Homo sapiens: one gene and its partner. The protein of the gene in region 2 interacts with the protein of the main gene of each other region in a pairwise test. Each region holds a gene or a part of one and is shown on either strand. Other genes may lie near its edges.

Region 1 (3,817 bases), on a different chromosome or scaffold from region 2:
CCACATGGTCCAAAGTAATACACCTGTGGGAGACCTTCACCTGAAAGCAGAGGGGAAATGGGGGTATACAGTGGGAGACACAAAAGCCAAAATATGAGATAACAGTATTAGCACTGAATAAAATATTTTTAAAAGTACAATTTGTGAGATTTCCATTTTCTTTCATAGTCCCTACTGGAAACTCAAACTGAGCACAACAGCTTCAATGGGAACTAATAATGATGGGAAAGGCTAAGTCATTGCACAATACGTTCAAATGAGTAGTTATTTAATACCACAGTGCCAAAAACATTTCCACTGCTATAAGATAGAGAATGGTCCCTGATCCATTGGATCTTCCCAAAAGGATGCCTGAAAGTGCAGTATCATAAAAGGCTCAAAGGATGGCTCACTGAGCTCAAAGGCCAGGCTAACATAACTTGTTACATTATCTGGTTCATGAGCACTCTCTATGCTTACTGCCATAGCCACATGGGCTATTTGGAACTGTTGCCCTATGGACAACTCAGACTGAAGAGGCAAGGTCACAGAGCGTGCAGCCTGGCCCCAGGCCAGCACAACTGGCCCTCTTTTCACAGGGAGTCTCTATAGTTTTTTGTTTTTTATCAGCTGGAGAAAAGTCAACAGACACTTAGTGTTTGGTTGCTGATAAGTGCTGATGAAAGGAAAAGGGGGAAAAAACACAAGGCTGGGTTTTCCCCAGATTTGAAATTCATAACTATTAAGAAGCCAAAATCCAGACTTTCTCACCTAAGTGGCAAATTGTGAATGAATTTCCTTTATAAAGTGCATTGTAAATATGAGGCATTCACTAAATATATAACTGGTACCATGAGAATAGTAGATATTAAATAGGATTACAGACGCCAGGCGCAGTGGCTCATGCCTGTAAGTCCAGCACTTTGGGAGGCTGAGGTGAGTGGATCACAAGGTCAAGAGTTTGAGACCAGCCTGGCCAACATGGTGAAACTGTCTCTACTGAAAATACAAAAATTAGCTGGGCATGGTGGCACGCACCTATAGTCCCAGCTACTCAGGAGGCTGAGACAGGAGAATCGTTTGAACTCAGGAGGCGGAGGTTGCAGTGAGCTGAGATGGCGCCACTGCACTCCAGCCTGGGTGACAGAGCGAGACTCCATCTCAAAAAAAAAAAAAAAAGATTATAGAACACTTAAAAAATTATCTGGTTTCACAGAGCAGAAACATTCCCATCTTATATATTTATGTATATAGTGGTCTACAGTTGCATATGTTGTAGATTATTGTTTGCTTCTGCCTCTAAGTGTTTTAACTTGAGACAAGGTCTCAGTGTTACCCAGGCTGGAGTGCAGTGGTAAGATCTCGGCTCGCAATCTCTGCCTCCCGGACTAACGCGATCTTCCCAGCTCAGCCTCCCAAGTAGCAGCTGGGACTGTAGGCTCGCTCTACCACACCAGACTAAATTTTTGATTTTTTATAGAGATGGGGTCTCACTATGTTACTCAGGCTGGTCCTGAACAACTCCCAAGCTCAAGCAATCCTCCCTCCTTGGCCTCCCAAAGTGCTGGGAATACAGGCATGAGCTACTGTGTCCAGCCCCATTCCCTTTTTATTTCTATGGGTGGGATATAGACAGATGTACATCTAACACATACTTCTCTCGAGGGTAGGTCTCACATATTTGGAATTAATAACTATTTCATATATTGTATTAGTCTATCTTGATTCATTAAATCCTAAACAACTTTTTTTTTTTTTTAGACAGAGTCTCATTCTGTCACCCAGGCTGGAGTATAGTGGCGCAATCTTGGCCCACTGTAACCTCCGCCTCCTGGGTTCAAGCAATTCTTGCGCCTCAGCCTCCCAAGTAGCTGAGATTACAGGCATGGTGTCCACCAATTTTTTTTTGCATTTTTTGGAGAGACAGGGTTTTGCCATGTTGGCCAGGCTGCTCTCGAACTCCCGACTTCAAGTGATCCATCCACCTCAGCCTCCCAAAATGCTGGGATTACAGGCGAGAGCTACCATGCCCGGCCTAAATCCTAAACAACTTGAACATTTTCTTTAAATATGTTTATTCCTAGCTTGTATCCTCTAACATATGTTACTCCTGCTAGTTCAATAAATATCTGTTCAATTGTTTTTGTTGTTGTCTTGATTCTCCCTATCTCCAAAAGAGAAAAGGATTTAATTTGAAGTGTTTTTTTTTTTTTTTTTTTTTACATGGAGTTTCACTCTGTAGCCCAGGCTGGAGTGCACTGGCGCCATCTCGACTCACTGCAACCTCCGCCTCCCGAGTTCAAGCCATTCTCCTGCCTCAGCCTCCTGAGTAGCTGGGATTACAGGTGCACACCACCACGCCCAGCTAATTTTTGTATTTTTAGTAGAGACAGCGTTCCCCCATGTTGGCCAGGCTGGCCTCAAACTCCTGACCTCAGGTGATCCGCCCGCCTCAGCCTCCCGAAGTGCTGGGATTACAGGCGTGAGCCACCACACCAGGCCCCAAAGAGTCTTTTTTTCCCGGTTGTTTTGAAGAAGTCATTTTTCAGCTTTTTAAAAATATATAAAACCCAACTAGTTGTTTCCAATGACTCCTGCTGAGACATCCAAAGCAGAACACTCTGTCCTAGAGATTTACTGCTTTTATTAATCAGACACATGGTAAATGCAGTTTGGGGATCTTTTAAATTTATGTCCTATATAAGGATTTAATGCCACTAAAATGTTATTTTCCTAATATAAATATTATATTCTTCAAAGCAGGTTGTGGCAGCGCCTGTTGTTTGCATGCCCAATATCCATTCTCCCTCTCCTTTTTTCTTTTGAGACAGTGTCTCACTGTGTCACCCAGGCTGGAGGGCAGTGGTATGACCATGGCTCACTGCAGCCTCGACCTCCTGGGACCAAGCAATCCTCCTGCCTCAGCCTCCCAAACAGCTGGGAGCACAGGCACATGACACCACATCGGGCTAGTTTCTTAAATTTTTTCCAGAGATGAGCTCCCACTATGTTGTCCAGGCTGGTCTTGAATTTCTGGGCTCAACTGATCCTCCTGCTTTGACCTCCCAAGTGCTAAGATTACAGGGATGCCTCTCCCCTTCTTTTTTTCTTTTTCTTTTCTTTTCTTTTTTTTTTTTTTTGAGACAGAGTCTCGCTCTGTTGCCAGGCTGGAGTGCAGTGGCACGATCTCAGCTCAATGCAACCTCCACCTCCTGAGTTCAAGTGATTCTCGTGCCTCGGCCTCCCAAGTAGCTGGGATTACAGGCACGTACCACCACACCTAGCTAATTTTTAAATTTTTAGTAGAGATGGGATTTCGCCATGTTGGCCAGGATAGTCTCGATCTCCTGACCTCGTGATCTGCCTGCCTTGGCCTCTCAAAGTGCTGGCATTACAGGTGTGAGCCACCACGCCCAGCCTCCCCTTCTTTTAAAATAACATAACTTTTTTTTTTTTTTTTGAGACAGAGTCTTGCTCTGTTGCTCAGGCCGGAATGCAGTGGCGTGGTCTCAGCTCACTGCAACCTCCGCCTCTTGGGTTCAAGCCATTGTCCTGCCTCAGCCTCCTGAGTAGCTGAGATTACAGGCACCTGCCACCATGCCTGGATAATTTTTGTATTTTTAGTAAAGACGAAGCTTCATCTTGCTGGTCAGGCTGGTCTTGAACTCCTGACCTCAAGTGATCCACCCAACTCAGCCTCCCAAAGTGCTGGTATTATAGGCATGAGCCACCATGCCTGGCCCAGAACTTCTAATTGTTGCAAATAGCAACTTGCCCAGTTATAACTCCAGTCTCCCTTGACAATTAGGAAAGACCAATGAGATGGAAGCAGAAATGA
Region 2 (3,817 bases):
TTTTCAGGAACCACAACTCCCATGTTAGGGTAGTTAGTGTGTACTTGATGCCAGGGAAAGGCTGGCGGGGGAGAGACAATCACAGAAGGATGGCGCAGTCAGAGAGGGCTTCCTTTAGGTGACACCATGACCTGGAGAGAGGTGGACATTCTAGGAAGGAGGGATAGTGTGTGCAAAAATGCATTTAAAAGTGAGCATAAGTGTGGCTCTGGATAGAGGGGTGAAGAGAGAGGTCAGGTTAGAGAAGTAAAATTCATTTATTCAGCCACTTATTCAACAAATATCCATGTCACTAATTATAAGTCTGGTCCTGTGCTAAGGGGCCGAAGACCCTCTCTGGTTACAAACTCAGAACATGAAGGACTTGAATGCCAGACAGAGGAGTTTGGGATTAACGCAGAAGGAAGAAGAAGCCACTGAAGGTTATGGTGTGGGAGGTGCAGGATGGGGCTACAAAGTAAGGGGCAGAAGGCTGGGGGAGCCCATTTGGCTACGCTGCCTGAGTGGTGCTCCTGACTCCTTTGCCAAGGTCTGAGTTCTCCAAGGTTCCAAAGCCTACCAGCTTCATGGAGCTGGCCATCAGGTGACCCAGTCCACTGCCTGGTATGTGACAACTGTTACCAGAAGTAGCTTCCTGGGTCTTGGAGGAGTCCCATCTACTCTTCCCTACTCATCTCAAGTAAAGGCCAGATCTAGGAAAAGGAACTGTTAGGTGGAGAGGGACACTAGGGAAAATGACTCATAAAATAGCCAAATGCTCCAGAGGGTAAGGATGGGAAGGACCTTTACAGCTACTGTGACTCACTTGGAAATTTCCCCTGACCTCATGTCTCTGAATCTCTGTCTTCTACTCTTTGACCCTCTTTCTTTGCCAGTGCTCAGCTGATTCCAGCTTTTTCCCAGCTTCTTTCCAGCAGGTGGCAGCTGCCATTACCACTCCAGGCCTCTAGGGGGTGCAATTTGCCTTAAAGTTCCTGGTGGTACTAGGTGCAACTGGGACAATGCTGTGAATTTTCATGAGGAGCTTTGATGGTAATGTAATGGGGAGAAAAAAAGATGTTATTTTAAAAGCATGCTGAAATTGTTTGAAATAGTGGGAAAAAAGCAAACAATAAACTGGCAAAACCAAACTAAAGACTACTATACAACCATTTAAAAGAATGAAGTCACAATATGATGACATTGGAAGGAGCTCCAAGATTTAGGTGGTGGAAGAGGGAAGGCCAAGTTTCAGAAAATGTGCACAATATGATACCACTTATGTTAAAATACAAAGTAAAACTACAAAAACTGAAAAGGCTTGGAATGGTTACCTCTTAGGAGGAGAATGTGATGGGGGAGAGTAAAGAAGTTATGCTTGTTAAAATATTTGTATTGTGATATTAAACAATAATAGGCTGGGTATGGTGGCTCATGCCTGTAATCCCAGCACTCTGGGAGGCCGAGGTGGGCGGATCACTTGAGACCAGGAGTTCCAGACCAGCCTGGCCAACATGGCGAAAGCCTATCTTTACTAAAAATACAAAAATTAGCTGGGCGTGGTGATGCGCGCCTATAATCCCAGCTACTTGAGAGGCTGAGGCAGGAGAATCGCTTGAACCAGGGAAGCGGAGGTTGCAGTGAGCCAAGATCATGCCACTGCACTCCAGCCTGGACAACAGAGAGAGACTCTGTCTCAAAACAACAACAACAACAACAACAACAACAACCAACACCCCTGATAAATAAAATTGGCTGCAGTTTTAATCTGATGTCCTAGGAATAGAAACAAATTCCAAGGAGAGGACTATTCTTGTTTAGAAAAACAGCTCGAGGGGCTCCCTGGATGTGGTCTGGAAGGACAGAAGCAAGCAAGGTAAGAAAAAAAAATAGTAGTTGAATAATAAAATACAGGCCTCTGTGGAAAGGAAGGAGAAAGTTGTAGGCAAAGGGCCCTTAGGACTGAGGAGGCATCAGTAATTGTTGGGCAGCTGGAGCCTGAGGAGGAGGATGGACAGGAGGGTGGCCTTGATGGCAGAGGAACTTGGAAGGATAGTAATGACCTATATTTAATTGTAAATTCTTTCCTGTATGTCCTGTTTTGTAATTTCTCTTCAAGAAACCAAAGTTTTCATAAAAGTGTGTTATATACAGCAGCCATGAGACAGTGAAACTTTGGTCCCTGAAGGGAGAGGGACAGCCCATGAGGTGAAGGGAGGGCAATAGTGGTAGGAGCTGTGGACAGTGGCCAGAAGCGAGGGGACTTCACAGGATCAGGCTGCACAGTAAACTGACTTTGGAATGGACATGAGACAAAGCCACAAGGGAAATGTGACCCAGAAAGGAAGGGAGATATTTGGGTTTTCTAAGAAACGAAGGGAAAACTCCCCCAGATAGGTGCCAACTGGGCCCAGAGATCTCTAGATGGGCTGAGATTGTAATCGGGAGAGGGGCTCGGCTTCTAGGGTTGGAACTCTCTTTCCTTTCTATCCCTTAGACATAACAAGTAACATCCCACTTCTAAGGCAGCTTCCTCTCAGCCTGATCCAGTGTTTGATGGGACTTCCAAGTCCTCTCTCTGGGGTTCCATGCTTTTCCCCCTGCAGCTATGCCCCAGAATACCTGGAACGTTCTTGGCTTCAGAGATGCCTCTTAGAGTTTCAGGCTCCTGCAGAGAACTGTAACTGCCCTCTTTGCCTGCAGGAGACAAGGTGCCTCGCAGTGCCAATGACTTGAAGGCTTGAGTCTTGGAATCATCTAGGCTGAGCTGGTTTATTTGTGGCACCTCATTGTAGACCCAGCCCAGAGTATCTTGCCTACTCCCCACATCTCCCTCACCCCCCAGACACACTCACCCAGCTTCACTTGGAGCGGGGATGGTTTGTAATTCATGGCTACTGACTCACCCTCCCGGGCGTCACAGTCTCCGTCAGAGATGGAGGCGGCGGCTGGGTCCTGTGGGGAGAAAGCAGTAAGACAGAGAGTTGTTAGGGAGTGAAGACAGGGGGCTGCTCTCAGTCCTGAAGCTAGCCTTCCCACCTGCCCTCTGGGCTTCTGTGAGCATTCACCCCTCAGAGCAGGCAGGGCATTCAGGGAGAGAGGGGCAGACCCATCTACCGTGGGACAAAAACACTGGGCTAGGTAGAAGAACCAAGGATCTGGGTTCCATGTACACCCAACTTGGTGTCTGTCCTCAAAGTCCTGTGTGGTCCAGCCTCCTCCAGAAAGCCCATCATGATTTCTTTAAACTCACAGGACTTCCTTCTCCTAACTCCCATACTAGTAGCCCTTCCCCTCAGGCCCTTCCTGTGTACTTGCTTGGCAAGGTCTTCCTAGGTTCCTGTGAGTTTAAGTCTGGGTTAAGGGGAGAGCAGGTGCTGTCTGAGATGGGTCTTCTCCCTCTGTTTCCCTGTGCTGGACAGGTCCCTTCACAGGATCCAGAGAACTGACTGACCAAGCCACACCAGCCTTCAAGGCTACAGCCACTGGACAAAAAAATAGTTCTAATGAGGACTTCTCCAGTTCACAAATGACACCTAAAGAGTGTCTCCGGGGAGAACCTGAAAAGTTGGCTAGGTACAGTAGGTGAGAAGACAAATAATGACAAACCAGCAGGTGGCCAGTTAGTCTTTTGCTGCCCAGAGTGCAAAATACTTGATTCTACAGATGGTCAGGAAGATAGGAAAGCACACATTCTGTGTATTGTCCTGAGTCTGGAACTTTTGACATCCTCCTCACTGCCCTCTTCACTTCACTAATCTCTAATTGGGCTGGGAACTATGTTGTCCAGAGTCTTTTTTTTTTTTTTTTTGAGACGGAGTCTTGCTTTGTTGCCCAG

Evidence for each region.
Region 1: the proteins of FAM219A (region 2) and CSNK1G1 interact in a two-hybrid assay, tested with the Homo sapiens proteins (one large-scale study listed by BioGRID and IntAct).

The regions. Positions count from the first base shown.
Region 1 is NC_000015.10:64,216,674-64,220,490, forward strand, and holds part of CSNK1G1 (casein kinase I isoform gamma-1), read right to left. Parts: intron 41-3,817; coding exon 1-40.
Region 2 is NC_000009.12:34,403,031-34,406,847, forward strand, and holds part of FAM219A (protein FAM219A), read right to left. Parts: intron 2,935-3,817; coding exon 2,835-2,934; intron 1-2,834.